4 linked regions of the Homo sapiens genome follow. The protein of the gene in region 2 interacts with the protein of the main gene of each other region in a biochemical or structural test. Each region holds a gene or a part of one and is shown on either strand. Other genes may lie near its edges.

Region 1 (7,397 bases), on a different chromosome or scaffold from region 2:
GAGGTGAAGGGGTTGGAGGAGAGGGCGTCTGTAGCTCCTGCGTGCCCAGGTCCAACAGGTGCTGTCAAACACTTCGATGTTTTTTCTTCCCAGTTTCCACTTTGCCAGCGCCGGGCTGGTGATTAGGGGGCGCACTCCCAGTGCCTGGCTCCATCCAGGGTCTGAAGCATCCGAGGCGGAAAGAACTTGTTCCCCAGTCCTTTGCCAGCGTGCGCCCCCACTTAGTGCGGAAGCGTCCGCGGACGCCTCGCAGCGAGGCGTCGCCACTTAGCTCGCCCGCTCTTGGGGTTTCTCTGACTGTTGTTTCCACAGACCCCAGGTTTCTTTTAAAGGCTTGTTGACTCACTCTTCTCATTCCTTTCATTTCCCTTCCAGCCCCTTATAAACGAGCTTCTGTGGTTTCCACCAAAAATGCCCCTGTGTGTCTGAATTCTGGCGACACTCACTTCTCCCAGAGTGTTCTGCAACGCAGTTTCTAATGCGCCCAGAGCTAAGCTTTGCGGGAGTGCCTTTTGAAGAAACGAGCGCTGAACCTTCTTTCCACCTGTCCCCCAAGTTTTCTCCATGGGTCTTTGGGTGTTGGAATAAAACCCAAACTGGACAAAGAGCTCGAGGCTGAGGATGGTGGCTATGGCTTCGGGGAGCGGGGGGACGCGGACGTGTAATCGCCAGTGTGGCCCATTTTACGGTAGGGTAGAATCTGAGGGAAGGCGGACTGAGATGCCGGTATAGCGCCGATCCCTCCTCCCTCTAGTCAGGGATTAGGAGCACTGCGATGAGGGAATCCCGTCTCTGCTCCCCCTTGGCGCTCACGCGCCTGGAATGTGAGTGGTGCAATCCCGGCAAAGCTCCCCGAGACCCCAGTGCCACGCGGATGAGACCGAAGGGGAGCGGAGTTGAGCCAGGCGCCGGGCTAGTCCACAACTTGGCATGGCCGAGCACCTGGGCGCTGGTCGTAGGGGACAGCGCAACCTGAGGCCGAAGGCCCCAGGAACAGGTGAGAGTGGACAGAGAAGCCATCGATAATGGCGCTGCTGTCACCGCCTTGCCATCTTGGCCACCTCGGACTCACCCTTTAGAGCAAAGAGGCGAGAGGTGTTTGACAGTGGGAATGCATGGCCAAATTTTGAGCTCTGGAACTCCAGGCTGTCTGTGCCGAATTCCTACCAGCCAAGCAGGCGGGGCGCAGGCTTTGCCGATTATGAAAAAGGGCACGTGTGTCCAACGGCTGCGGACTTGCCACGCCTGCCACGCCTCGGCAAGGAACCCACATCTACACTCCCAAGTCCCAGTCGCCAGGTTACTGCAGCCTCCACGGGGGTGTCTGCGCCCCGGGCTGCTAAGGCTCCCGGAACCTGCTTCTCCAGTTCTCGGCTTTCGAGGGCTAGGCGCTAGAAGTCAGAGACTTCCCAAGGCCGGCTGGGACTGGGGGTGTGTCCCCCTATGGGCGAGATCCGCGGTTTGCTGACTCGTCCGTAATGTCACTACCCTGTAGATCCCAATGTCAGCGGCTGCCCCGGCGCACGTGGCCTGGGATACAAAACCAAGGGCATGTGTGAGACCAGAGGAGGGCAGATCGCGGCCCCGGGGCCCCTCGCCCTCACAGTGGTGGCTGAGGCCTGGGGCTGGGCGGACAGCAGTGCCCTGGTGGGCCTGGGGACTGGTGCGCCCCGGGCTTCTGAGGACTAGGGCTGCAGTCGGCTGTAAGAATTATTTTTTAATTCCAAAAGCCTCATAGACGTTCCGAAGTCTCTTTGCTTTTTTTTTTTTTTTCCAAGTTTGCATTGAGGGGTGAAAGTTTGCTTAACTGACCTGTATATTTTACAAGTGATAAGGTTAGGATTTTACAATTCTTACTCTAAAAAGTATTTCCAACAGTGACCTGGCAGATATTTAGAAATAGGAAACAAAACAGTTTCTCCTCTAATCGTCCTCCAATCGCCTCTAATCATCCTTCCACCCCGAAATTCCTTACACTCGAGAGAAAAAGTTACTTGATAACAAAGCTCTCTTAGGGGACCTTTTAAAAATACATTGAAGTAACACAGTTACTTTACCGTAAGCACTTAATGTATTAAATAGGGCTTCGGTACATGATTGCAGTGAAGTTTCTGGCTCAGTCACCGGCTGGGGGATCTTGGACTGCTATGAAACCTCTGTACCTCGAGCTCCTTAGGTAAAGTGGGGGTAGTCAGAGCACCCACGTCTTTGGGAAACTGTGAGGGTTACAGAAGCTAACCCAGGAATGCCTGGGAGCACTGCCAGAAGAATATGAAGTGCTCAATAAATGTGCGGTTTCATTGTAGTTATTATTTTATATATGATGATAATCACCTTTACCCCAAGGGTGAGGCCATGCCATGGGAAAGAACCCTGGGCTGAGATGCAGATGCCTCTGGATTTGGCTGGCCTCCTTATGTGAGTTTTCTTCTCTGTGAAACAATGTGTGGGGTGAGAATCAGGCCTCTTCAAACTGATATTCTCACCCAAGTGTGAAAATGCAACTGACAGTATTTTTGCTTTTGAAAATTCCCTATTAAGTATTATGAATTAAAGTAGAGAGAGTTCCTCCCTCTTTTGGTGAGAACATTGGTATTACTTTTTTTTTGGACTTAAGTTTCTCTTTAAAACCAAATCACAAATGTTTGAACAAGTAAAAAACTGACCGTGCCAGCATCTCAAATAATAATGCGACTAAAATTTCACATGGCATACTGTAGAAAGAAAAACAGGGGCATCAATTATTCCTTCATTTTAAGGATTTACCATCTAAGTCAATAATTTAAAATCTTTTTTTTTCCTGTCATGTCTTTCGCTAATGCCACTAAAATAAACAGACCTGAGCCTATATTATTTTTAAAAACAATTATCTTTATTTAAAATAGATTCACTTACACAGCCAGCTACTGCCCTCAATATTCCACACACTTAACAATAAATTTAGTTTTAAAAAGACAGGCTTAGAAATAATTTTTTCAAGCAATACAAGCCAGTAGTTGTTTTGTCGATGCACTTTATATGATGCAGAACTAGAAGTATCCTAACGCAAATGTTTTTATGTGAAGAACTGTAGTTTTATCCTTTTAGTTATTAGTATGTCATTAATCTGGGCCTGCATAATGACTGTACAACATTATACAGTCTGTAGAGATAGAGATAACAGTATTTAATCAATACAAGAAACATTTATTTTTAGAATTAGTCTGGGGTAAATGACCGAGTGGTCAATCAGCAGCATTTTTAAGGAAAGAACCCATGATAAGTGTAAAATAACTAACACAGCAGGGGAAAAAAGGAGCTTTGTAGGCTGCACTGTGGAAATTCTAAAGGCCTTTGGAGTAGATGGAGCTTTATGAACAACAGAAATAAAGATGCAATCTCCATTTTGCAAACAATATCCATTGCTATGGAGTGTAGAAACAGCCAGAGAGAAATCTTTTTTGAAAAAAGTTAGATTTACATTTTACCAAAATTTAGTTCTACAGCTATAGAAAGTGAGAAAACTACACAAGGTTTATGAGGAGAAAAAGGTTCCTGTCTCCTACTCTCCATTTTTCACTCTCAATTCTTGTTAGCTCTTCCTGTAGGTATTGACCTTCATATCTCTTAATAACATGCTACTTTTTTTTTTTTCAGTTTTAGGTCTTATCTGTTGGAATCCCAGTGGAAGAAAATTCTCTTCTTGATCATTCTACTGCCTGTTAACCACACATGCAAGCTTTCTTTCCAGTCATCTTTCCAATATGGTTGTGCCAAAATTTTTCTCAGTAGGCTGAGGCAGGAGGATTGCTTGAGTCCAAGAGTTTGAGGCTATGGATTGCCCTATTTGAATAGCCACTGCATTCCAGCCTGGGCAACATAGCTAGACCCCATCTCTTACACAATATTTTTTAGTTAGTTCAGTATTCAGTATAAATATTATCATTACTTTCTAAATGATATTTAAGGTTAAGTCACATAGGCTTCTATGTTGACATTTCCTTTTTTCCCCCTACCTATTTTCCTTGGAGTTAAAACAGTCTGTTTTTGTTTATTTGCTTAATTTCCTATGGATTTATAATTAAATAATCTTCTAATTCTTTATTTTAAATCTCCTGAGTGTTTTTTTATTATTATACTTTAAGTTCTAGGGTACATGTGCACAACGTGCAGGTTTGATACATAGGTATACATGTGCCATGTTGGTTTGCTGTACCCATCAAGTCATCATTTACATTGGGTATTTCTCCTAATGCTATCCATCCCCCAACCCCCCCACCCCCCACCCCCTGACAGGCCCCGGTGTGTGATGTTTCCCGCCCTGTGTCCAAGTGATCTCATTGTTCAGTTCCCACCTATGAGTGAGAACATGTGGTTTTTGGTTTTCTGTCCTTGCGATAGTTTGCTGAGAATGATGGTTTCCAGCTTCATCCATTTCCCTGCAAAGGACATGAACTCAGCCTTTTTGTGGCTGCATAGTATTCCATGATGTATATGTGCCACATTTTCTTAATCCAGTCTGTCACTGATGGACATTTGAGTTGGTTCCAAGTCTTTCCTATTGTGAATAGTGCCGCAATAAATATACGTGTGCATGTGTCTTTATAGTAGCATGATTTATAATCCTTTGGGTATATACCCAGTAATGGGATTGCTGGGTCAAATGAGAATTCTAGTTCTAGATCCTTGAGGAATTGCCACACTGTCTTCCACAATGGTTGAACTATAATTTACACTCCCACCAACAGTGTAAAAGTGTTCCTATTTCTCCACATCCTCTCCAGCATCTGTTGTTTCCTGACTTTTTAATGATTGCCATTCTAACTGGCATGAGATGGTATCTCATTGTGTTTTTGATTTGTATTTCTCTGATGACCAGTGATGATGAGCATTTTTTCATGTGTCTGTTGGCTGCATAAATGTCTTCCTTTGAGAAGTGTCTGTTCATATCCTTTGCCTACTTTCTGATGGGATTGTTTGTTTTTTTCTTGCAAATTTGTTTGAGTTCTTTGTAGATTCTGGATATTAACTCTTTGTCAGATGGGTAGATTGCAAAAATTTTCTCCCATTCTCTAGGTTGCCTGTTCACTCTGATGGTAGTTTCTTTTGCTGTGCAGAAGCTCTTTAGTTTAATTAGGTCCCATTTATCTATTTTGGCTTTTGTTGCCATTGCCTTTGGTGTTTCAGTCATGAAGTCCTTGCCCATGCCTACGTCCTGAAAGGTATTGCCTAAGTCTTCTTCTAGGGTTTTTTATGGTTTTAGGTTTAACATTTAAGTCTTTAATCCATCTTGAATTAATTTTTGTATAAGGTGTAAGAAAGGGATCTAGTTTCAGCTTTCTACTTATGGCTAGTCAATTTTCCCAGCACCATTTATTAAATAGGGAATTCTTTCCCCATTTCTCATTTCATCAGATGGTTGTAGATGTGTGGCATTGTTTCTGAGGCCTCTGTTCTGTTCCATTGGTCTATATATTTGTTTTGGTACTGGTGCCATGCTGTTTTGGTTACTGTAGCCTTGTAGTATAGTTTGAAGTCAGGTAGCATGATGCCTATAACTTTGTTCTTTATGCTTAGGATTGTCTTGGCAATGCCAGCTCTTTTTTGGTTCCATATGAACTTTAAAGTAGTTTTTTCCAATTCTGTGAAGAAAGTCATTTGTAGCTTGATGGGGATGGCATTGAATCTATAAATTACTTTGGGCAATATGGCCATTTTCATGATATTGATTCTTCCTATCCATGAGCATGGAATATTCTTTCATTTGTTTGTGTCCTATTTTATTTTATTTTATTTTCATTGAGCAGTGGTTTGTAGTTGCTGAAGAGGTCCTTCACATCCCTTGTAAGTTGGATTCCTAGGTATTTTATTCTCTTTGTAGAAATTGTGAATGGGAGTTCACTTATGATTTGGCTCTCTGTTTGTCTGTTAATGTTGTATAGGAATGCTTGTGATTTTTGCACATTGATTTTGTATCCTGAGACTTTGCTGAAGTTGCTTATCAGCTTAAGGAGATTTTGGGCTGAGACAATGGGGTTTTCTAAATATACAGTCATGTCATCTGCAAACAGGGACAATTTGATTTCCTCATTTCCTAATTGAATACCCTTTATTTCTTTCTCCTGCCTGATTGCCCTGGCCAGAACTTCCAACACTATGTTGAATAGGAGTGGTGAGAGAGGGCATCCTTGTCTTGTGCCAGTTTTCAAAGGGAAAAACTGCTTCCAGTTTTTGCCCATTCAGTATGCTATTGGCTATGGGTTTGTCATAAATAGCTCTTAGTATTTTGAGATACATTCCATCAATACCTAGTTTATTGAGAGTTTTTAGCATGAAAGGCTGTTGAATTTTATCGAAGGCCTTTTCTGCATCTATTGAGATAATCATGCAGTTTTTGTTGTTGGTTCTGTTTTTGTGATCAATTACATTTATTGATTTGCGTATGTTGAACCTGCCTTGCATCCCAGTTATTTTCTAGGTATTTTGCACAATTGCCACTCTGGGTTCTTCAACATCTTCCTGGGACTTCCATCACCTCTCTGTTGAGCTAGATCCCTGTGTGTTTCTCTTTTTTCATTATGTTTTTGTTTTGTTGGACCACATCCTCCAAGAGCTTTCTGAGAAAGGATGAATAAGGCCTAAATTTTGAGAGGTTTTGTGATTGAAAAATTTTCATCATACCTTTACACATAGTTATAGTATTCTAGGTTGGAAATAATTTTCCCTCGAATTGTGACAGTATTGCTTTACTGTCTTCTAAATTCTAACATTGCTATTAGAAAGCTGGAATCAGTTTGGATTCTGAACTTATAGTTCATTGCTTTGCTTTCCTGGAAATTTTTAGAATGTTCTCCTCTTCCCTGTGTACTCAATAGGCCTCTTTTATCCAGAAACTCACATCTTTTAATTCTGGGAATACTTCTTAAGTTATTTCTGTGATAATTGTATCCTTTTCATTTTCTCTATTTCCTATTTCTAGGTTTCTTTCTTATTTGGATGCTAGACCTCTTGGATTGATCTTCTACTTTTCTTACCTTCTATTTACCACCTATGTTGTTGTTGTTTTTTTTTTTTTGTAATTCATCTTGTTTGGATATTTCCTTGGCCACTTTTAAAGTTACTGTTGAGTTTTTCATTTTTGGTATCACATTTTCAGTGTGCAGGACATGGCATACTCTGCTTTGCTTCCATGCAGTGATATCCCTCTTTTCCTTCTAAATTTGTAATTAACTGGAAGATGGGTACAGTAACCAGATGGAGAATATGAATATATCCTTATTATTGATAAAAGCAGTTGAACATGGATTTAGATCTATTTCCAAAAGGGCCTGCTTGCTATTACTTCCTCCCAGAATTAGGCAGGAATATCTATTAAATCACATATAGTGCCATTTAGCTGCAAATCTCCCCTGCTAACT
Region 2 (7,228 bases):
AGGTTGCAGTGAGCCGAGATTGCACCGCTGCACTTCAACCTGGATGACAGAGTGAGACCTGTCTCAAAAAAAAAAAAAAAAAGAAATTTAACTCCTTCATTGTTGTGAGGTCTATATGACTGTGCCTGGTACATGAATGAGGCCTTTATGAATATTAACTATTCTAATTACTCATTGCTCTCCCCGGTTTGGAAGCATTAGACATGACTCACAGTTGGTGGAAAAATAAGCTGCCCCTAAAACCTCTTTTTTATTTCTTTTATTCTCTTTTTTTGTTCGTTTGTTTTTTGAGATGGGGTCTCCCTCTGTCACCCAAGCTGGAGTACAGTGGCACAATCACAGCTCACTGCAGCCTCCCCGCTTCCAGGCTTAAGCGATCCTCCCACCTCAGCCTCCTGAGTAGCTGGGACCACAGGCATGCACCACTACACCCAGATAATTTTTTTCATTTTCATTTCTTGAAGATATGGGGGTCCCATTATGTTGCCCAGGTTGGTCTTGAACTCCTGGGCTCAAGCCGTCCTTCTGCCTCGGCCTTTCAAAGTGCTGGGATTACAGTGTGAGCCACTGTCCCTGGCCTAAAACCTCGTTTTTGAACAATTTTTTTTTTTTGAGATTATGGAGTTTCACTCTTGTTACCCAGGCTGGAATGCAGTGGTGCAATCTTAGCTCACTGCAACCTCCACCTCTCAGATTCAAGCGATTCCCCTGCCTCAGCCTCCTGAATAGCTGGAATTACAGGCACACACCACCATGCCCGGCTAATTTTTGTATTTTTAGTAGAAAGGGGATTTCACCATGTTGGCCAGGCTGGTCTCGAACTCCTGACCTCAGGTGATCCTCTGGCCTCGGCCTTCCAAAGTGCTGGGATTACAGGTGTGAGCCACCGCACCCAGTCTAAACAATCTTAATTGATGTCATTAGATATCCATAAATCCTCAGATGCACACTGGGTGAAAATGATAAATAACACAAAGTTCCACCCTCTAGGTCACTCTCATTCAAAGAAACATCTGATGAGAACATCAGAAAAGACTTGAGAGTGAAGTTCAAGGGCAGGAGTGTGGGGCTCAAGAGTCAGAGAGCACAGGCTCAAGAGTCACCTGGATCTCCGCTCAGTTCCCACACCAGCGCTTAGTCGCTGTGTGCTCTTGGATAGGACGCTTGGTTTTCCAGGGTCTCAGTTTTCCCGGGTCTCAGTTTTCCCATTTGGAAAATGGACATAATAATAGTGGACCTCATGGTGCCTTACCCCTCAGCTGAGCTGGAATTATAAATGGCATTGTGAGAAAGCGAATGACATGAGGCCCTTCCCAGGAATCTGAAAGGAGAGGAACTCAGCACTGCGGAGGCCTGGATTGCAGGGTGTGTGGGAAGGGGACCCATAGGAGAGACAGCCTCCCCACTGGTTAAGGCAAAGAGAAGAGATGATGCAGCCCCAGGGGAGGGGCACCCTGGAAAGCTGGGCTGATTGCCAGACCCCTCTCACTTTGTGGGTTGGAGTTTTGAAGGCTCCTTTGCAGGATGACCCCAGGAATTGGAGTTTCAAAGCTGATATTTGGGGCAGGATGGAGGGCTCACCCCGGTATGGGAATGTAGATGAGCCACACCCACACACACTGCCCCCAGTCGTTGACATTTTAGCTGAGACCTGAAAGCAATAATCCCCAGGGAGAGTGCTTTAATGGTGGAATTCCAGGCAGAGCAAGGACGAGTGGAGAAAACGGCTGGATACGTGCCCTCAGGTTGCACACGTATCCTGCCCTGCTTTGAAAAGCAGTTTCTCCCAAGTGCCTCAAGTGCTTGAGATATTCAATAACATTTCAGAGCATTAAAAACTCTGAAAGAAAAGAAAGCCTGCTACCTCTGAGGCCACATCCTCATCCCACCATGAAGATGCCTTGAGATCACAGGGCTTTGTGGTTTTAGTTGGGTTGGTTTCTTTGAAATGAGGGATTATTTTTAATGCGCCAAGACAAATCAGTTTCAAAAGATAAAGCTTATAATGTTGACTTTATTTCACCGTGGAAATTTTGTGCTCAAAGGTAAGAAACCATCTTATATAAAACAATCAAATAAATACATAAATACATTAAAAAAATGAGTCACTTCAAAGGCGGCCACAGGGTTGAGGAAAAAGCCCCTTGTGGAATCAGAAGCAGGTGTCTGCAGCCAGGACTTCCTCTTAATGCCGCCTCAGCACTGTCAGGGAAAGAGAGAGGGTGATGATGGTTAGGGTGGGAGATGGAGGCAGGGGCTGAGCTTACCTCATCGTGTGCCACCCACCACCCTGTTAGTCATCAGACGTTTGAGGCTTAATGCAACTCTCTGAGCCTCAGTTTCCTCATCTGTAAATTGGGGATTATCATTGCTCTGGTGATCCTGCTCTCTGCCTTTGAGACTATAGACAGTTTAGAGGAAACCAGGAGGAAATGTTTGGTTCTCTTTCTGCACCACTGGGGGGCTGCCAAATGATAAACAGACCCCCAAAGGAGATTCTGCCCCTTTGATAAGAAGTAGGAGGTGGGGAGAAGGTATTGTGGGCATGGTAATGAAATAAGCCCACATTTACTAATTCCACAAAGGCACCCCTTGGCCCTGAAGGCTGTTAACAAGAGGAAGCGATGTCCAGGTGACCTTTTCTCAAAGAGTGTGGTTCCCAGAGACAACAAACCCCAAAGTGACTCTAACAGTGTCACACACTGGAATGGGGGAAGGCGGCCGGGGTGGCAGGGGGTGCTTACCTTTGCAGCCCAGGCCACTGGAGGAGCTGATCCGGTCCATCTTCCTCCCAAAGCAGCCAGACCCTTGCACCATCTTGGGGCTTCGTGGTGCCCGCAGGGTGTAGAGGACCATTTTGCGGTGCCCACGGATGCCCTCGGTGGCTACCTCCCGGGACTTCCAGACACCTGTGGGACGGGGGCTCTCCTGGAGGGGCTCCAGGGATGTCTGCTCCACCTGCAGCTCCGACAGTTTGCCCTGCAAATGGTTGCGCTGCTCCTGCAATGAATGGGGGCGTCCAAGCCTCAGGGACCCACCCCTGGGCTCACCAGCCCTTCATGGCACCCAAGTGAACCGACTGCCTTGGGTACAGGGTCAGGGCACCCAGTCTCTCCATTTTCTGATTCCTTTATCACTAATTCCAAAGGAAAGATGAGGGCCTCTTGGGACAGCAGGTGAGGACCCTTTCATTGCTGCTGTCCAATCCCCCTGAGCTGCCCTCCGCTCTCACCTGTAACCCGGACGTTTCCAAGTCCGAGGCTGAACCGGGGCTGCCCAGCGGGTGGGAACGACCTCCCAGGAAAGCCAGATGCAAGAAGAGCAGGAGCAGGAGCGCCCGGGAAGGTGCTGTCTGGGGATCCATGTCTCTGGAGGGACTGCGGAGGCTGCTGCTGCTGCTTCTGCTGCTGCTGCTGCTGCTGCGATGCGTCCGGGTTTGCTTCCCACCTGCCCTCAGCCTGCGGGGTGCTCCTCCTGGCTCCTCGGGACACCGTGGCCTTTTATCCTGGAGCTGAGTGTCGGGCCTGCCCTGCCATGCAGGGTTATCTCTGATTTATCAGCCACATTCCGGGCCTCTGAGATCAGGGCCCGGGAATGAGCCCCTCCGCGCCTGCGACGTGGGAGGTGGAGACCGGGCAGAGCCGACCTTGTATAGAAATGGGCCGGGTCGGGCCGGGGGGCAGGAACGCGCTGGAGACACAGACAAGTCCCCGTCTCCCGCTTCTTCCTTTCCTGCAAATGTCCAGGTGTCCTAGGTTGGCGCTTTCTTCCTGCCTCCCCACCCCACCGTTGCTGGAAAAGGCAGGGAGGACCCCGGCTTTCCGAGGACCGACGTGAGCGCGGGGAGCACGGGGTGACTCACAGCGAAAACAGCCCCGGCCAAGACCCCGCCACCCGCGGCGCCTCTCCCCTCCCCGCGCGAGTTCCCTGGCCCGCACGTAGCGCAGCACCTGCTCGCCGCTGTGCACCCTGCCTGCCTGCGGGTCCTCGGGGGCGCCCTGGCCGCTGTCCGTGGTGCTGATCACCCCGAGGGAACTTGGAGCAAACTCTCAAGAGCTGCTCTCTTCAACGGGATTTTCAGGCCAGAAAGACCTGCGTGGAGCAAGGACAAGAGACCTCCGAGACCTTTCCCTATGCTCTCACAATCCGCCATCTTATAGTCCTTACAGCAACGGGATGCTGATTCCCCAGTGGCAATTCATTAAAAGCCTGGGTATGACCAGGAACTTCTGGAATGCTGACCCTTCTTTCACTCCTTAAAGGGAAGAGCAGATTTCGCTGGAATTTTGAGAGATAGGGTCCAGTGATGACGAAGTCACCCAAGAATGCCTTATATGTGTGTCCTCCACGTGTCAACACCTCCTCTCCCCCACCAAGCCAACACAGGATGGAAAACAAAAGGATAGGCTGGGCATGGTGGTTCACGCCTGTAATCCCAGCACTTTGAGAGGCCGAGGCGGTCGGATCACGAGGTCAGGAGATCGAGACCACGGTGAAACCCCGTCTCTACTAAAATTACCAAAAATTAGCTGGGCATGGTGGCAGGCGCCTGTAGTCCCAGCTACTCGGGAGGCTGAGGAAGGAGAATCACTTGAACCCAGGAGGTGGAGGTTGCAGTGAGCTGAGATCACGCCACTGCACTCCAGCCTGGTTGACAGAGAGCGAAAAAAGAAAGAAAGAAAGAAGGAAAGAAAGAAAGAAAGAAAGAAAGAAAACAAAAGGATGGCTGGAATGATGGTTATCTATTTGCTGGGATACCAGAGATATGGGGATTTCCCCTCTCCCAGTGCCTCCTTCATCTGACCACCCATGATCTAATTATCATTAGCAGGTGGCCTGGTGATTAGAAGTGAGACTTTGGAGAGAAATGCCCCTGAGAAGAGTCATAGCAGCTTAAATACCCCCCTAAAGCATATATGACTGATGTCACTCCCCTTCCAGAGAATTGGTGTCAACAAGCAGCAGGCTGGAGGAGTGGAGCTGTCTATGAGGGGAGAAGAGTTACAGCAGAGAAGGGCAGCAATAAGAAACTGGGACCTCTAAGCAGATCTTGCCTAAAAAATAGCATCTGCCCCTGAGGTGAGAAAAGCACGGTTATTATTCCTCACTTCAGAGGAGGAAATGGTGTTCATGAATTAATCTACTTTCCAAAAGTCACACAATTGACACATGATAAATCCTGGATTCTAACCAGTCTGATTAGTCTAGCCAGCAGTCTGATTCCAGACCTGAAGCTCATAATCACTGCCAGGGTGATCACAAGGTGTTTCTACAAAAAGCAAGCTTAGGTGAATCCCGTGTCATCTATGAAGGCTCTGGGAGCTGTGCTGTGGGGGATGTGCAATTCTAGTGGTGACTGTGTGTGCAGGAGAAAGAATGGGAAGTGGCTCAGATGAGCATTTTGCAGATGAAATATAAATGGAGGTGGGTGGGTAAGGGCTGTGTAAAGACACCAGTGCTGGAAATGTTCTGGGGGGCTGGGGTAGTTTTGTGTGTGTGTGTGTGTGTGTGTGTGTGTGTGTGCGTGCACATGAGCATGCCACAGTAAGAGTATCAAAAGGCTAAGAGGAAGCTAAAGAGGTAAGAAAATTCAGCCAAGTGCAGAGGGGAGTCAGTGGGCGAGAGGCTGCTGAGGGTGCAGAAAGCCCCTCATGCTGAGTACCATGAGATAAAGGGTTCAGAGCAAGGCAGGATTCATCAACCAGCACCATCAAAAACTGACTCTGCATCTCGCCAGAGCCTCACTTTGCTCTTCGGCAAAATGGACAGTCCTTGCAAGGACTAAAAGGAAAAAAATAATATCTGCAAAAGCCCGTGGCACTGTATAAAGGGCCAAATAATTAGTAGTACATGAGAGTTGGTCTTTACACTGAAGGAGATTGTGATCTCACTGGGGAGACAAAGTGACCCCAAGTGAGACAATTAAGTGTCTAAGTGTCATACACTCTGACAGAGTTTCTATCTGTCCCCAGTGGAGGGGACTGTGGAAGAAGACTTGAGGAAGACACAGAACTAGACACATCCTCCAAGGCCTGCTGTCCAGGGAGGAGGATATGTTGTCAACTAACTCTCACACCAGATCAGCCCCATCAACATTTATCGAGGGCCTGTCATATGCTATGTGCTTTCCAAGTCTATTTAATGAAGCTAATCATAACACCTCTGTTGGAGCATTAATGTACAAGGATTAAATTTGATGATGTCTGTGGTAAGCTGAATAATAGTCCCCAAAAGATGTCCATATTCTAATCCCCAGAATCTGCGAATATACTACTTTACATGGTAAAAAGGACTTTGCAGGTGTGGTTAAGTTAAGGACCTCAAGGTGGAGAGATTCTCCTGGATTATTCAGGAAGGCTCAATGTCATCACAAGGGTCCTTATAAGAGGGAAGCCAGAGGATCAAGGTCAGAGGGACAAAATGTAAGGATGGGAACAGGTCAGAGAGGAGAGAAGAGACTACACTGCTGGCTTTGAAGATAGAGGAAGGGGCCATGAGCCAAGGAATGTAATCAGCCTCTAGAAGTTGGAAAGGGCAAAGAAATGGATTTTTCCCTAGAGCTTCCAGAAGGAATATGGGCCTGCCAATACCTTAGTTTTAGCCCAGTGAAACAGATTTCAGACTTCTGATGTCTGGAACTGTAAGAAAATAAAATCATGTTCTTTTAAGCCAACAAGCTTGTGAGACTTTGTTTCAGCAGCAATGGGAAATTAATAGAGTATATGTCAAATGCCAAGCATAGTGTCTCTCCCATAGTAAGCCCTCAGCAAATGTTGTTATGGTAGAAGTATTGGTTCCCCACCACCATCCAACTCTAAGTGCTTAATCTGGCCACACAGAAAGAAATAAGACCCTTAAGTCATTCAACAAACTTTCACCGAGACCCTGGGGTCACAGTAGCCCAGACCCAAGACTGAAATCACAGTCTGGGCTCAATTTCACATCAACTTCTTGCTACCTTTGTGTGTTGGGCAAGTTGCTTCCTCTCTCTCCTTGTTTTCTCATGGCTACCTCATAGGGTTGTTGTGAGCATAAAATGAGACTGTGCAGGTTAAAATCTAATATTTCTGCTGGAAGGTGGGGATACATAACGGACAAGAAAGTCCCTGCCATTGAGAAGCTTACAGTGCAGGGGGAAAGGTGGGCACAATCACAGGCTCCCCAGGCTGCCACAGTGAGTGACAGATACAGTGGCAGTGAGTCCTGGATGCTCTGTGAGCACAGCAGG
Region 3 (7,397 bases), on a different chromosome or scaffold from region 2:
CAGCAAAGTTGGAGGAAATTTCACTTCTTCAGTTTTCTCAGACTTAGAACCAACCAAAAACCATTTTCTCTAAATACAGTTAGTCCTCCTAGAATCATTAGAGAAGCACACCTACTCTAAACTGTTAGAGCCCTGAAACCACAATTTGAGAAATTTCTAACAAGAAGAGGAGAAACAAAGAAATGGGACGAAAACAGATAATACTCATCTGTGGAATATGGAATATTGAGAAATACATGTATAATGACAAGGAGCACCACAAAATTAAATTTCCTTTTCAGTTTATCTTGTACTACTCATATATTTATAACCCCAGTTGATACTCTTTACATACAGATCAGAAACCCTGCACACACCTGCAGTCACTCACCCTACTCACACACAGCGCCAGCTAGCCATTCTTTCCTTCGACTCCATTTTATTTTACAGTCTGAGGCAAAAGAGATACAAGGGTTCTTCTGCTTCTTCCATCACTGTTACTTTAATAATTTCCTATCCTCAACAATCACAAATTTATATAGTTGTTCCTGTATCAGGAGTTTTAGAATTATGACAGTATTATTCCTCTTTGCATTTTTTTCTTCTTAATGAAATGCAAGTAACTATTAGCAGAGGCACAGATAAATGGTTAATTTCACGGGTTTTGTATTTCGCATGTATTTGTATTTAGCATGGTACTAACTTAATGAAATGCAACTAACTATTAGGTTGAGGGCAGAGGCTTTGCAATTGCCACAGGGAAAAATTAAAACTTCTTCTTCTCACCTGAAGACCAGAATAAGTCTAGAAATGTTAGAAATATCCATAAAACCCCTTTAGGTAACTATCTGCAGCTTTAGATCCATAGCATAACCACAGTGTTAACAGAATTAAGACCAATGAATTCAATTTAGGTAAGACCCCCTATTACCATCTTTACAACAGTTTATAAAGCAGAGAAATCCCATGATAAATTATTTTTACATTGTTTAGTCTCCAGATAATCTGTCAGTTCCAAGATGGAACATCAAATATTCTTTCCACATACCGTATATAGAATGAATACATAGGATGACTTGGCAAAATGGATTGAAAATCACCTGTTTAAAAGACTAGCAAGTAGTTCTTCAATCTTATTTTTAGCTTCAACTTCAGATGAACATTTTTTAAATGAATCTTCTTCACTAAAGGACTATCAAAGAAGCATAAATAAGGATTAGCACAAACTCAAATAACTATATCTAATTATTATCAGTGTACAGTCAAATAAATATTCAATACATTCTTCACTAACTTACCTCTTGTCCTTAGTTTGAGCCATTTAGTTCACTTTTATATTAACAGTTTTTTATCTGCAAGCTATTGTACTCACTAGAAAGTTAATATAAAATATTACTGTATTAACAGTTAATATAAAACAGTTAATATAAAATAATTCAAAGTTATGAAAACTCTAAAGCTCTAGTACCAACTCCAAGCTTTATTGTATGATTATGGCAAGAGTTCTTAATCACCTAGGACTTGAATCTAAGTTTATCCTTGGACAAGTTATTTAACCTTTCTAAAGTACGGTATCCTCATCTTGAGAGAGAGAGAATGGAAGGAAGGAAGGAAAGAAGAGAAGTAAGAAGGAATGGACAAACAACAGTACTACCTACCTTGATGCTTTGTTGTGAAGATTAAATGGACTAACATATTTAAAGCACTCAGTAAAGTGCTTGTCCCATAGCAAAAAAATCAGTCAATGTTAACTGGGTGATTATACCTTTCCCATTTGCTAAATCACTGGACTACTCTGAAAACAAGATTTTTAACAGATTAAAATATTTTGCCTCATATATGCATTATAGGCTATTAAAATTAAGTTGCACTGTCTTCAATCATAGTAGCTAACTTAAGATATCAAAATATCAATGCTTAAGATTCCATTTAAGAATACTTATTAATCCAATCTATTAATAATAAATCAGCCTTCTAATAGGAAAGGGATCACATACTAAGCAAACTAGAATAGTAAGAACATGGTACTAAAACTAGAAATCTTTATCTCAAATAATGTGATAACCAGTACTTAATTAAAATAAGTATCATCATGTACCTGAGGTGGTCCTGAGAGTATCACAGGGGAGTTATCCTCTCCAAAACTGAGCTTTTGGATACGCTGAGCAACTGAAATTCCTAATTCTTTTTCTAAAATTTTGGGTGAAAAGGTTTGGAGATCACGCACACTATTGATACCCAGTGCTTCAAGACATTTGGCAGTTTTATAGCCAATACCTAAATAAAAAGAAATGCATACAATGTTAAAATAGCTTTTCTCCTTAAAACAAAGCTAATTAAAATATTATAAATATATCAATCTTATCTTTAAGTTCTATAATTTATACAGTAGTCCCCCCTTATCCACAGGGGATACATTCTAAGACCTTCAGTGGATGCCTGAAACCATGGACAGTATCAAACCCTATATATACAGTACTGTTTTTCCCATTACATATATACCTATGATAAAGTTTAATTTATAAATTAGGCACAGTAAGAGATTAACAATAATAATAAAACAGAACTATAACAATATACAATATACAAGTTATGTGAATGTGGTCTCTGCCTCTCTCTCTCAAAATATCTTATTATTTTCAGACCACAGTTGACTGCAGGTAATAGAAACTGTGAAAAGTGAAACTGCAGATAATGGGGGACTACTGTATTTTGCAAAGATCAAACCCCATTGCAAACTAGGTTGCTGTTCTTCCACTCAGGGCTCCTGAATTATATGCACCTCTTTGAAGTCCTCACAAAATGCAGTAAAATAAAATGAATACAGAGACAGCCAATAAATGCTGTCTTACTAAAACAAAAATTTTACCACCTGTTATGTAATATTCCAGAAATATTCAGAAATCATGATTATTATTAATATACAAAAAGGCTGCCACTAGAGCAATTAAAATAAATTAAGTGTACATATTAGGTAACCTAACTGATTCCTATACGCACCACCACACATTTATCCATAAGTCATATCTAACATTTACCATCCAGAATACAACTATGAGCCAGAAAGCAAACAAACAAAAAATCTTGCTAGCAAAACTGTCACAAAGTTCTTGCACTAAAATTCGGTCATACTTTATTCACAAGAGAAAACAGGCTATTTAATGTCTCCTTATTCTTTTCATTCAAAAACAGTAATTCCACAGTTATCTGGTTTTCTTGCACAGTAAAAGCAGTAAGTTGGAGGAGATGGCTATGTAGGGGGAACTATTAAAGTAGAGTGACAGATTTTTCACAGCAGAAAAAAAAGAAGGTTGGCAATTTGGCAATAAGTGAGAAAGGAGAAAGCCTGTTAAAAAAAAAAAAAAAAGATACAAGAACTCGAAAGTAAAGCCAAGTAAGAATGTTTTGCACCAGTATATAGTCCTCAGTTTATTACAACCTGACATTGTTCTTCAGAATGCACTACCAAAGTCATCCAAAAAACTTCAAATTATAGTTATACTATACTAAGGAAGGCAAGGCAGTGTATAATACATTTTGGAATCACGCAAGTATCAGTTAAAAATGTGAAGTATGACATCTAAGTTTCAGTGGTATTAGAAATTCACTTCCACAGAACTCTTTTATAACATCTTATTCCCTAGCAATACCACAGAAATGTAGTTCAACATATTGATGGCCTATAAAAACTTGGGTATTTAATCTTCAAAGATACAAACTTGCCCCATGACCTAAATAGGTCACCGAACTCCTCATGGAAATCAGTTTCCTAATCTTTAAAATGAGGACCTTGGCCTAGATGTTTTGGAAAGTCCATTGTAGCCTTAATATTTTATATGTAATCCCAAAAGAGTTAGTAAAAGACGAACTCCCCTCTCTAGAGGCAATGTACAGTATAAGAGTATGACCCAGGGACTGGAAATAAAGGACCATATGTTTCTAGGCTATAACTTTCATGACCATATTCTAACCATACAAAAGTAGATAAAATAAGAAAAGTACCTTCACATATTTCTTAATCCAAATTTGCTTGAGAAAACATTACAGTTTTTCTTAGTTTTTTCCAGGAACCAAGTATACACACACACACACATGCACACAAACTCACAGACAACTCTACCTAAGAATTAATTACATTGTATCTATAATTTTTTAAATTAAAAGAAATAAAATAAGACGTATATGTACTTTTCAAATATATTTGTCTTACCAGGTATTTCCTTTATGTGATTCAAACTATGAATAAGATGTTGACAACTTTCAGGTAATAAGACTGTTTGTTGATTTGGTTTAAAGACACCAGAAACTAATTTTGCCAACAGTTTATTAGAAGCCACTCCAGCACAGCCAGTGAGCCCCAACTGATTATACATGGCTTCCCGCATCTCTGCTGCAATCTGAGATCCAACAAGTAGTCTGATGTGCAAGACGTCAAGCAGGTTTATAGCTTTAAAAACAACAAATGTCATTCAAAGTCACAAGAAAAACCTTTTTCTTTTTCACAAAATAATTTTTAAAAGGTAGAGGGCTTAGTCTATATCCAACAACCACCACCACCACAACCACCACCATCATCACCTGGTATGGTTGTGATATTTGTCCCCTCCAAACCTCATGTTGTAATTTGATCCCCAGTGTTGGAGGTGGGGTCAAATGGGAGGTGTTGGGATCACAGGGGTGGATCCCTCATGAATAGATTAAAGCCCTCCCTCAGGGGTAAGTTTCTGACTGTATTAGTTCCAAAGACAGCTGGTTGTTAAAAGAGCCTGGCACCTCCCCCAGCCCTTGCTTCCTCTCTCACCATGTGATCTCTGCACACACTGGCTCCCTTTTGCCTTCCACCATGAGTGGAAACAGCCTGAGGCCCTCACCAGAGGCCTAACCTTGACTTTTCCAGCCACAAGAATCATGAACCAAATAAACCTTTTTTTCTTTATAAATTACCCAGTCTCAGGTATTCTGTTAAAGCAACACTAAATGGACTAAGAGATCACTGCCACCCTGTTATCCACTTGACTAATCTCTTTCATGCTTCATAGGAATACTGTAAACAAATTCAATAAGCAAATTCCAAGGGCCTGTGATAGTGACTGTGTAGTGGGAGTGCTTAATAATTAACACATTGTGAAAACTGATCTCATAAAAAAATTCCTACTGACATTGGCAAAACTTTTACTCATATTTACCCGTAAGTAGGCATAGAAGTATTATTATATAACAAGAAAGCTAACATTATACTTTAAAGATCTAAATCTTAACCACGCACTAGCAGTATATGCTGCTAGAAACAATCTCTGACCTGTACACAGTTTTAGAGCTCTTTTATGAAAAGTGTAAGAAAATTATATAAAAATAAATTTGCTTTAGGTGTAAAACAGTGTTGGAATGACATGAAACCATCCTAACCTCAAAGAGACTAACGCTAAAAGTATTTAGAGATGAAATGTCAGGATGTCTGCAATTTACTTCCAAATAGCTCATCAACCAACCAAGCAATCCATAGAGAGAACAAGAGAAAGCAAATGTGGCAAAACGATAACAACTGGTTTATCTACAAGAAAGGACATAATGGGCCAGGAGTAGTGGCTCATGCCTATAATCCCAGCACTTTGGGAGGCCAAGGCAAGCGGATCATCTGAGATTAGGAGTTCAAGACCAGCCTGGCCAACATGGTGAAACCCCGTCTCTACTAAAAATAAAAAAATTAGCCGGGTGTAGTGGCACATGCCTGTAGTCCCAGCTAGTCGGGAGGCTGAAGCAGGAGAATTGCTTGAACCCAGGAGGTGGAGGTTGCAGTGAGCCGAGATCACATCACTGCACTCCGGCCTGGGCGACAGAGTGAGACTCTGTCTCAAAAAAAAAAAAAAAAAAAGAAAAGACATAATGGGTATTTTTTGTACTATTCTGTCAACTTTTCTGTAGGTTTACAAAAAATTTTAATAAAATCTGTATGAAAGAGGAAGAATTAATCAATAATTCCACATTTCCCTTTTTGGGATATAAAACCTAGCTCTCTATAATGTACTCTAACCAATAAAATCCAAGTTTGCCTTAAAAATTATACAGAAATATATTTGAAATATTCTTGCTAGTTAGCCCTTTTAAGTTACAAATGAGCACAAGTACAAAAGATACAGGAAAAGCTCCATGTATTCTAGAAACTGTGGTTCTACTGCTTTTCTTCTGTGGAGAACTATTCTGTAGACCGATGTCTAGTTCTCAAAAAAGAGGATAAGAGGAAATGCATGGGGAGGCTTAAGAGCAAAAGGGTCAGACAAGTCTTACACAACAGCAGAGTACCTTGTCTTGTATGTGGTATGATAGGGGAGTCACCAGCAGAGTCATAAGATGTCTGAAAGCCTAATCAGATATTCACTGGTGCTTACTGCAGCTTATTTTCAAATGTAAATATCACTGGAAACACCATCAGTCATTCATATCTCAATATATGAAGGAGACAAACCATTCTGCTTTCTTGCTAACTTTGACAAAGATTATTTGAACAGATTAAATAGGAGCTTGGAGAAGATTCTAGCACATGGCAGATAGCCCTGGACAACATTCCAAAAGTGCTAACTTGGGAATTCAGAGAGCAACATGAGGGTCTCAGGGGAATCGAAGTGAACATGTAAAACACACATCAAAGGGGAATCGAAGGGAACATGTAAAAGACACATCAAAGGCAAATCTAGCCTACCTGAAAACTCTGCTTAGAGATTGTTTTAGAATAATAAAAAATTATTCCAAAAAGCATATTAAGAAGCCAACTCTTACAACTTAAGAATGACCTACAGAGGTATGGCTTTTTGTTTCCTTAAGAGATGGGATCTTGCTCTGTTGCCTAGGCTGGACTCAAACTCCTGGGTTCAAGCAATCTTCTCAGCTCAGTCTCCCAAACAGCTGGGACTACAGGGGCGCTCCACTGTGCCCAGCTGGGTATGGCTTTCTAAAATGGGAACCAATGCACTGTGTCAGACGAAAACTCTGCACAGATGAATGCTCTGTGCAGATGAACAGGAACAATGCTCTGTGCAAATGAAAAGTGCACAGAGCATTGAGCTACATGTCATCAAAATCTTAACACTTATTATGGAATAGCAGCACCTAATTTTAGCTGTCCTAGACAGATTACTGACTAAATATAACTATACCTCCAACAAAAGTCATGAATCTTTCAGAATCACACAGCGAACTCACTGAACATTAAGAAATGTATGTACTTTTGGTTAGTAGGTAGAATGAATAAGAACCCACTCACACTGATTATTGTATACATGACCCGACACAGTCACCGCAGAAAGTTCATCACTTTGCAGCTGCTGTAGTCTCTTCTCAACCATTTCTGTTAGATCCACAAAATTTTCATCAAATCCAAGTCTCTCAACAACTGGACTAAATTCTTCCAGTAATTCTAAATT
Region 4 (7,397 bases), on a different chromosome or scaffold from region 2:
CATCGGCTCTCAGACTTGAAAGTGCCAACTGGGCTTCATCTGCAGCCGCTCCCCTCCCTGGTCTCACATCCCACACACCCTCGTGCAGGCTAAAAGCAGTAACAGCCCATCAGCTTCTGGGCACCCAGGACCTTTGGGGCCTAGAGCAGGCCTGCTGGTGGGGATGTGCCTCTCTGATGAGATGGAGCTGGGCTGGGCTCTGTGTGTGGGGGGGGCACTCAGCCAGGGGCCTGGGACACCCTGAGGGATTCTGGGAACAGGCTGAGGTGCAAACCCCCATACGAGGCAGAGTGGAGTGGAGGGAGCAGGGCAGAGATGAGGTCACAGCTGCCAAGCCTCTCCCCAGACAGCAGCTGAGGGAGAGCACAGCAACCTGCCACCCAGGCCGAGGCACAAAGAAAGCCGGGCGCCTCCTTGCTGGGAGCTCTGCGCCAATCCTGTCTTAGTTTTGATGAACAAATCCTGTGAACATGGAAAACCAGGTACCTACATCCCAGCTCCTGTATGAAGGCAGAGCCCAGCCCTGTGCTGCCAGCACTGGGGGAAACCAGAGCTACCCGGCCAGGCTCCGATCTGTCCTGCCTTTAGGAATCAGGCTGGGCGTGGTGGCTCATGCCTGTAATCCCAGCACTTGGGGAGGCTGAGGCGGGTGGATCACCTGAGGTAAGGAGTTCGAGACCAGCCTGGCCAAAATGGTGAAACCCCATCTCTCCAAAAAAACAAACAAACAAAACAAACAAACAAACAAAAAATTAGCCAGGCGTGATGGTGGGTGCCTGTAATCCCAGCTACTTGGGAGGCTGAGGCAGAATAATTGCTTGAGCCCAGGAGGCGGAGGCTGTAGTGAGCTGAGATGGCACCACTGCACTCTAGCCTGGGCAACAGAGTGAGACTCTGTCTCACACACACACACACAAAAGGAATCAGAGCCAGGAGGGAGCAGAGAAGAAGGAAGCCCTGAGACAGTGGGAGGAGCTGCAGCAGGAGCTGGAGCAGGAGCCAGCACCCACAGGCCCCCAGTCTGCTGCTGACCAAATTCAGCTGGGATTGCCGTGGGCCCCACGCGGTTAAGTGGTTAATAAGCAATCCTCCCCGACGCGGGCTGGAGGTGCCCCGCCTTATGTTTACCTCGGCAAATTGCTCCGTGTACTACGACGTTTCCCTGATAAGGGGTTCTGCCTATTACTCTCCAGAGAGAACAGAAAATAAGTGTTTCTAATAATCATCTCATGCTTGGAATATAACAAGCCTCTTTTTCTCAAAGTAAAGGCTGATCTATGAGAAACTAGCCCTAAAAATTATTAATGTAAATAGTTTCCCATTTCTTATCAGCCTAATAATAGCACACTGAATTTCAGATCTTCATCAACTTACAAGGCCCGACCACAGGAAGAGGCCCCCACCCTGGGCCTGTCGGACAGGACCTGTGGACGAGTGTTCACCATGAAGCACCGTGTGTGTGCCAGAGAGGCCCGGGGCTTTCTCTCTCTGTCTTTGCCAAGCGTTAGTTCTGCTGGGCTTTGTAGTGTTTAGTGCCCGGGGTGCTAATTAAGAAGGCCCAGAAATTAGAGACAGGCCCCCCTCTGAACAAGAAGGAGAAATAGCACCCAATGCCAGCCACTGGGGGAAGCTCGGTGGAGAAGGGCTCCTGACCCAGAAGCCTCTGGAGACCACTGAGCACTGATCCCGTGTGTGGCAGGCTTGGGTCTAGGTGCTCCAGGTACAAGGCCCCACACTGATTCATTCAGTGGCAAGCATTTAAGAACTGTAGCTGAGAATTAAGGGGAACAGTTTACTGCAGGGCGTCCTGCTCCTGGCTTCCAAGGTGCTGCTGGGGGTGGAGATGCAGCGTCTGGCCACACAGCTGGCAGTCAGGAAGCTGGGGAGGTGCTCAACGGCACGGCCGGCATGGAGTCCAGAGAGAAGGGAGGGAACGAGCCAGTGGCTCCTGCAGCCGAGGCAGCAGCTCTGCTGCTGGAGGATAGAATCAAATCCTACAGAGCTGTGGTTCCTCGGACTGGCTTCCTGCCTACAGGGAGGAAGCCACTTTCCTGAGGGCACTCTAGCTGCAGATACGGGGCTCCAGCTGGCTGCCCAAATGCCTTAGGTATTTCTGCTGACTCAGAAGTTTAATGTTTCAATGGAAATTAACCAGTCATTCACTGGCCTTCTTCATCAGTCTCCTGTGAGTTTGGTTACTGGGTGTCAGTGCCCTGAAGCCTTACTGGCTCTGGGTGCCACAATCGCACCCGTCTGTCTGGATCTGCAGGGCTGCTCATTAGCACCTCTGGGTCACAAAAGGTCTTGACTTCTGATCAGGCCCTGCCTGCCTTTTTGATCAATTAATACCTCTAGTTCCTTCACTTCTTTAAAAAGCATGCTGTATCTCACTAACACATGGATTCTGTGTTCATTTACAGCCTACAGACAGGAAGGAAATCCATTCTCTGGGGCCTGCGCATGGCTGGAAAGCAGTTACGTAACCACCCACAGGGGGCAAACATCTCGTATCCCTAGGAACGGCTGGGACAAAATGGAAGCCACATCAACCTCCCTCACTGGCCAGGACAAGACAGGTGAGACACTGGACAGTGACCGCGCAAGGATGCCCTGCAGCCCCCGTGATCACCACAGAAGATGCCACCTGGGGACCGAGGGTGGCTGTGCGTGCCAGCCTTCTGGTGCCCTCCCCGCCTGCGGTCACCTGTCTGAAGAGCAGCTCCTGCTCACTGGGCTGGCGCTGGCCCGGCTCCACCTCCCGTGGGGGCTCTGCCTCTTCCTCATCGCTCTCAATGGGCTCCTGCTTCACCTGCACGCCGGCCTGTGCGTGCGCCTCCTTCTGCCCCGGCAGCCGGTCCAGGTAGGGCTCGTCCAGCAGAGCCTGGTGCTCACGGAGCTCCTCCTCCGTCTCCTCCGGGTGGCTCTCCGGCTGCCGGGCTGGCTCGCTTGGCTTGGGGATGATCTGCAAGGCGGAGGTAACACATGAAGCACAGAGAGCTGGGTCCTCTGAGCTCATCTGACAGGAGAAGGGATGCTGCAAACCCCACCCTCTGGGGCAGACAATCAGGGACTCAGGGCACCTTATCACCCTGCCACAGGCCAGCAGGCACCTTTATCTCCCAACAGGCACTGGGGTGCCTGAGTGCCTAAGAAAATAATGCCCAGTAGGACCCCAGCCCAGGGTCAAGGTGACCTGGCCCAGGGAAGGAGGCTGACTAACATTTGGGGTTTACTAAGCACCTCTTCTGTGTCAGGCACCGAGAAACAGAAAAGAAGCTGCAGGTGTCAACAGAGTCTGCAGAGGAGAGCTTGAGTGTGAAGGGGAGAGGCCAATGCTGACCTCACAGCCACAACTGCTAAGAGAAACAGCCCACCACCCACTCAGCGGAAGACAACCACGTCCACAATGCTCACTGCCCAATCCCACCAACACGCCACGGCCTCCCCTCCTGCAGGATCCCACCGATGTGCCATGACCTCCCTCCTGCCGGATCCTGGGAACACTCCAGGACCTCCCTTCCTGCTGAATCCCAGGGATGCCACGGCCTCCCCTTCTGCAGGATCTCAGGGACACCATGACCTCCTTTCTTGCAGGATTCCATGGGTGCTCCATGACCTGCCCCGCTATGGGGCCCCAAGAACCGCAACATCCTCCCTCCTGTGGGACTCCCTAGATGCCCCCGACCTCTTTTCCTGTTGGATCTCACGGACGCTTCTCGGTCTCCCTCCCCGGCCTCTCAGTGCGGAACAGGCGGCAGGTGCTCCTCTCCTGCTCCCCGCCTGCTCCTCCGTCTTGGTTTGTCCTGGGCCTGCTCCTCGGCTCATTTCCCCATTCTGGATTCCAAGTATCAGCGACTCCCAAAGGTGGTGCTGAGCCCAAACTCGCTCTTTACCTCCAGACCTAATGGCCTGCCAGACGCCTCAGCTTAGCCTAGAGTGCCCATGAGCCCCAGCACAGCAGGTCCAATGCCGAACGCAGGGCAGCTTCTTCCAAGCCTCTCCCTTCTCTAGGACCTGTTCTTGGCTATTGGGACCTCTCTCTGGCCAGCTGTCCAGTCACACCCCAAGCTCCCAATTCTGTCCGCCAAGCACTGCCCATGCATTGCTCACGAGAAACGCCTCTGGACGGTGCTGCTTCTCTCCAGCCTCGACCTCCTGCCTTTCCTGCTTTGCCCCACCTGGCCTCTCCTGCCTGGATGACAGCATGGCTCCTGGGAGGCCCCCACCTCCAGCGTCAACGCTTTGCAATCTTCTTCATGTAGCAGTGAGGGCACGCTTTCAAACGGGCCAGTGGACCTGGTCACTCCCCTGCTGAATGTCCCCCAAGTGCTCTTCTGCCATCCTGCCTCTGCTGAAGAGCCCCTCCATCGTGTGGCCATGTTGCCCCTGCAGCCTCCCTGCCACCCTGCTCCCGACCACGCCGCTGGCTCTGCATCCCTCATGCCACACTCGCCTCCAGCCCGCTGCTTGCCTTCCTTCCTCGGCCTCCAGCCACTCCAAGAGGCTTTGTGAGCCTCCCGTGCATGTCACCTTTTCCAGGGTCAGCTGATCTTCCTGATAGGGCAATGTGCCCTCCTCCAGCACCCCCCGACCCCAGTCCTCTGGCTTTTCTGTGGTTGCCATTCATGTATCCATCTTTCCTGCAGTCTGCAGTTCCCAGGAGGGTAGGGACCACTTCTGACTCATCCACGTGGCACAGGCATTGCTCATCGCACATTCACTAAAAGGATGGGGCAAATGCAAGGGGTGTCCGCGTAGTGGGGCAAAGTGGAACAGGGTGTATGGCTGACCTCAATGCGCTCTGGGAGCTGTGGGAAGCCAGCAGGGCTGCAGCGTGGAAGGCCAGAGAACAGGAACACAGGGTGCCGGAGACGAGGTGGGGCTGTGGGAAGGGCACTCTGGGCTGAAAACAAGCAGGTGCACGTTCTAGAAGCATGCCCTGCTGCAGACAGGCCAGAGGTTGAAAGGGTGAGGCCAGCCCCACGTCTGGCTAAGGCATGGGAGAAAGAACAGGTTTCCATGACACCAAAAAGGAAGCAGCTCTAGGCCCAGGGACAGACTGCATATGGAGAGGCAAGAGAGGGTGGCCAGGACAACTCCTTCGTTTTGGGCAATGGAGCTGCCCCATCACATCTGGGAGCCAGAAAAGGGATGAATGTGAGCAGAGCAAAGGCTGGAGTTGAGAACAAGAGGGGAGAGAGGGATGCGGGAAGTGGCAAAAAAAAAAAAAAAAAAAAAAGCTCAGGAGAGAGGGCGGGGGTCTGGAGTTAGACTAGGAAGGGCGCACAGGGAGTTTCTCAGAAGAAGGCACTGACTGAGCTGCATTCCTCTGCAGACTGTGAAAGAACGTCCCACAATCCCAAAGTCCCAGATCGAGGGGTCTCTCCGGATGCTCGATTCATCTGTCCCCGTGGGGAACGGCCTGAAGGGCAGATTCGAGGGACGGTGGGACAAGCCGAGTTCCTGGCAGAGAGAGGAGCTACAGCGCGTGGAGGATGGATCTCGGCACCGCATCCGACTGTTTCCAGAAGGAAACTGAGGTGTGCAAGGAAGACTGACACCTGAAATCCCCCGAGCCCTTGCATTTCAACACCCTTAGAGCACTGCATGCTGCTCCACACTCACGCGAGGCGGCCTCTCCAGCAGCCTGAACTACGGGGCACGGGTTGGTGGGCACTCAGTGTCCGCTTGCTCCCAGGGGTCAGCCGTATCAGACGACACCGGTCCCCACGCAGCAGGGCTGAGACGCAGACTCACACACACACAACATGGTGAGTTTTCAGCCTCCAGAGCCCTGCTGTGCCTCACTGTGGAACATCAGAGACTTCAGATTGGGCGGGGGGTTTGTTTTATGATTGATCATCCCTTAACTTTCTTTCTAAGAGCAGTTTAAAGTACGGCAGTAAAAGCCGAGTGAAGAAAACGCAGATCCATTGTTTATCTCTAAACCGAAGGCAGCTTTTCTTCAGAAAAGCTTTCAACCTGGCACAGGGAAATGGAGCCAGGTCCAGCCGGGTGCAGGCAGCGTGGGTGTCGGGGCGGGCCGGCCATCGGCAGTGTGGGAACCAGTAGGCGGCGTGGCACGTAAGGAACTCAGCTTCAGAAAGCCAAACTCGCAGGGAGGAGAGTGCAGCGGTGGGTGGCCGCGCGTCGGGAACAGGAACGTGCTGTCCACGGGTGAGCGTGCCGTTGGGAGAGGAATAAGTTCCGGGACCTGATGCACAGTTTGGTGGCCCCGATATTCACGGACCTTACCACAGACACAATGAGAGCCCCGTGAGGCCAAGGGGGCATGGATGAGGTCCCTTGTGGCGATCATTTCACAACGCATACAAGTATCAAATCATCACGCCGTACGCTGTAAATACATGCGACTGTTTCCGGTTAGACTTTCACAAAGCCGGGGAGAAACAAGTTCAACTAAGGAATCTAGCAACATTGTCCCCATTTGCTCTGACAGGTTTCTCAGTGGTTGACCAAAAAAAGCATGTGTTTCAACACTAGTTTCACTTGATGATTTTGAGGTCTGTGATTGCTTCTGGTTTCTCAGTCCCATCTTCTTCCTGCACACTGAGAGCCTGAGAGGCCCTGTGGGGGGCAGGGAGAACAGGGAGCCTGGCGGTACCGCTGTCGCTGTGAGCAGGGGTGCCAGGTGCAGCAGGGGCGCCGGGTGAAGCAGCGCTGTTTCACAGGGGACCTCGAAGATGGCATCCAAGTCTTGGCTTTCAGGACACTCATCAAGAGGGCACCCATACGCTCAGTTCCTGCAGCTCCCCCAGGGCCCGGTGCAGTCTGATGTGTAACGGGATGTGACTGACTGAGTGGTGTATGGGAGGTTTCTTGAGAGCGGGGCCCTTATCACTCGGTGCACCGGAGGGAGAGCAAAGAACAAAGAATCTGAAAGCAGAACAATTCCCTAAGAAGGTGGCACAGAGCGCTGAGGACAATGCCCTGGATGAGGAGCAGGAGGGATTCGGGAGGAGGGAGAGCAGCAGCCAGGACGGGCCTTCAGGAAGCAAGAATGTCCTGGAGGCTGCAGGTGTGGAAGGAAAAGCAACAGGCTAAGGATGAGGAGACAGGGCTCAGACCACAGGCTGAGGACATGGGGACAGGAGCTCAGGGCTAAGGGTGCGGGGACCAGAGCTCAGGGCTGAGGGCGCGGGGACCAGAGCTCAGAGCTGAGGGTGTGGGGACCAGAGCTAAGGGCTGAGGGCGCGGGAACTGGAGCTAAGGGGAACGGAGCTCAGGGCTGAGAACGCAGAGATGGGAGCTCAGAGCTCAGGGCTGAGGGTGCGGGGACCAGACCTAAGGGCTGAGGACACGGAGATGGGAGCTCAGGGCTGAGGAGGTGTTCAGGGCCTCAGAGGGCTCCTCACAATGTGGGCTTTGCTCATCAG

Evidence for each region.
Region 1: the proteins of NPPB (region 2) and NPR3 form a complex in vitro, tested with the Homo sapiens proteins (4 studies listed by BioGRID, with this or other methods).
Region 3: the proteins of NPPB (region 2) and POLI form a complex in vitro, tested with the Homo sapiens proteins (one large-scale study listed by BioGRID).
Region 4: the proteins of NPPB (region 2) and HDAC4 form a complex in vitro, tested with the Homo sapiens proteins (one study listed by BioGRID).

Annotation. Positions count from the first base shown.
Region 1 is NC_000005.10:32,712,748-32,720,144, forward strand, and holds part of NPR3 (atrial natriuretic peptide receptor 3 isoform 1 precursor), read left to right. Parts: intron 1-7,397. UniProt on the Homo sapiens protein: Receptor for the natriuretic peptide hormones, binding with similar affinities atrial natriuretic peptide NPPA/ANP, brain natriuretic peptide NPPB/BNP, and C-type natriuretic peptide NPPC/CNP.
Region 2 is NC_000001.11:11,855,470-11,862,697, forward strand, and holds NPPB (natriuretic peptides B preproprotein), read right to left. Parts: upstream 3,477-7,228; 5' UTR 3,365-3,476; coding exon 3,233-3,364; intron 3,001-3,232; coding exon 2,745-3,000; intron 2,203-2,744; coding exon 2,186-2,202; 3' UTR 1,995-2,185; downstream 1-1,994.
Region 3 is NC_000018.10:54,277,696-54,285,092, reverse strand, and holds part of POLI (DNA polymerase iota isoform a (long)), read right to left. Parts: intron 7,391-7,397; coding exon 7,238-7,390; intron 4,427-7,237; coding exon 4,190-4,426; intron 2,257-4,189; coding exon 2,078-2,256; intron 1,351-2,077; exon of another isoform or gene 1,278-1,350; intron 1,172-1,277; coding exon 1,080-1,171; intron 1-1,079. UniProt on the Homo sapiens protein: Error-prone DNA polymerase specifically involved in DNA repair. Plays an important role in translesion synthesis, where the normal high-fidelity DNA polymerases cannot proceed and DNA synthesis stalls. Favors Hoogsteen base-pairing in the active site.
Region 4 is NC_000002.12:239,112,349-239,119,745, forward strand, and holds part of HDAC4 (histone deacetylase 4), read right to left. Parts: intron 2,963-7,397; coding exon 2,705-2,962; intron 1-2,704. UniProt on the Homo sapiens protein: Responsible for the deacetylation of lysine residues on the N-terminal part of the core histones (H2A, H2B, H3 and H4).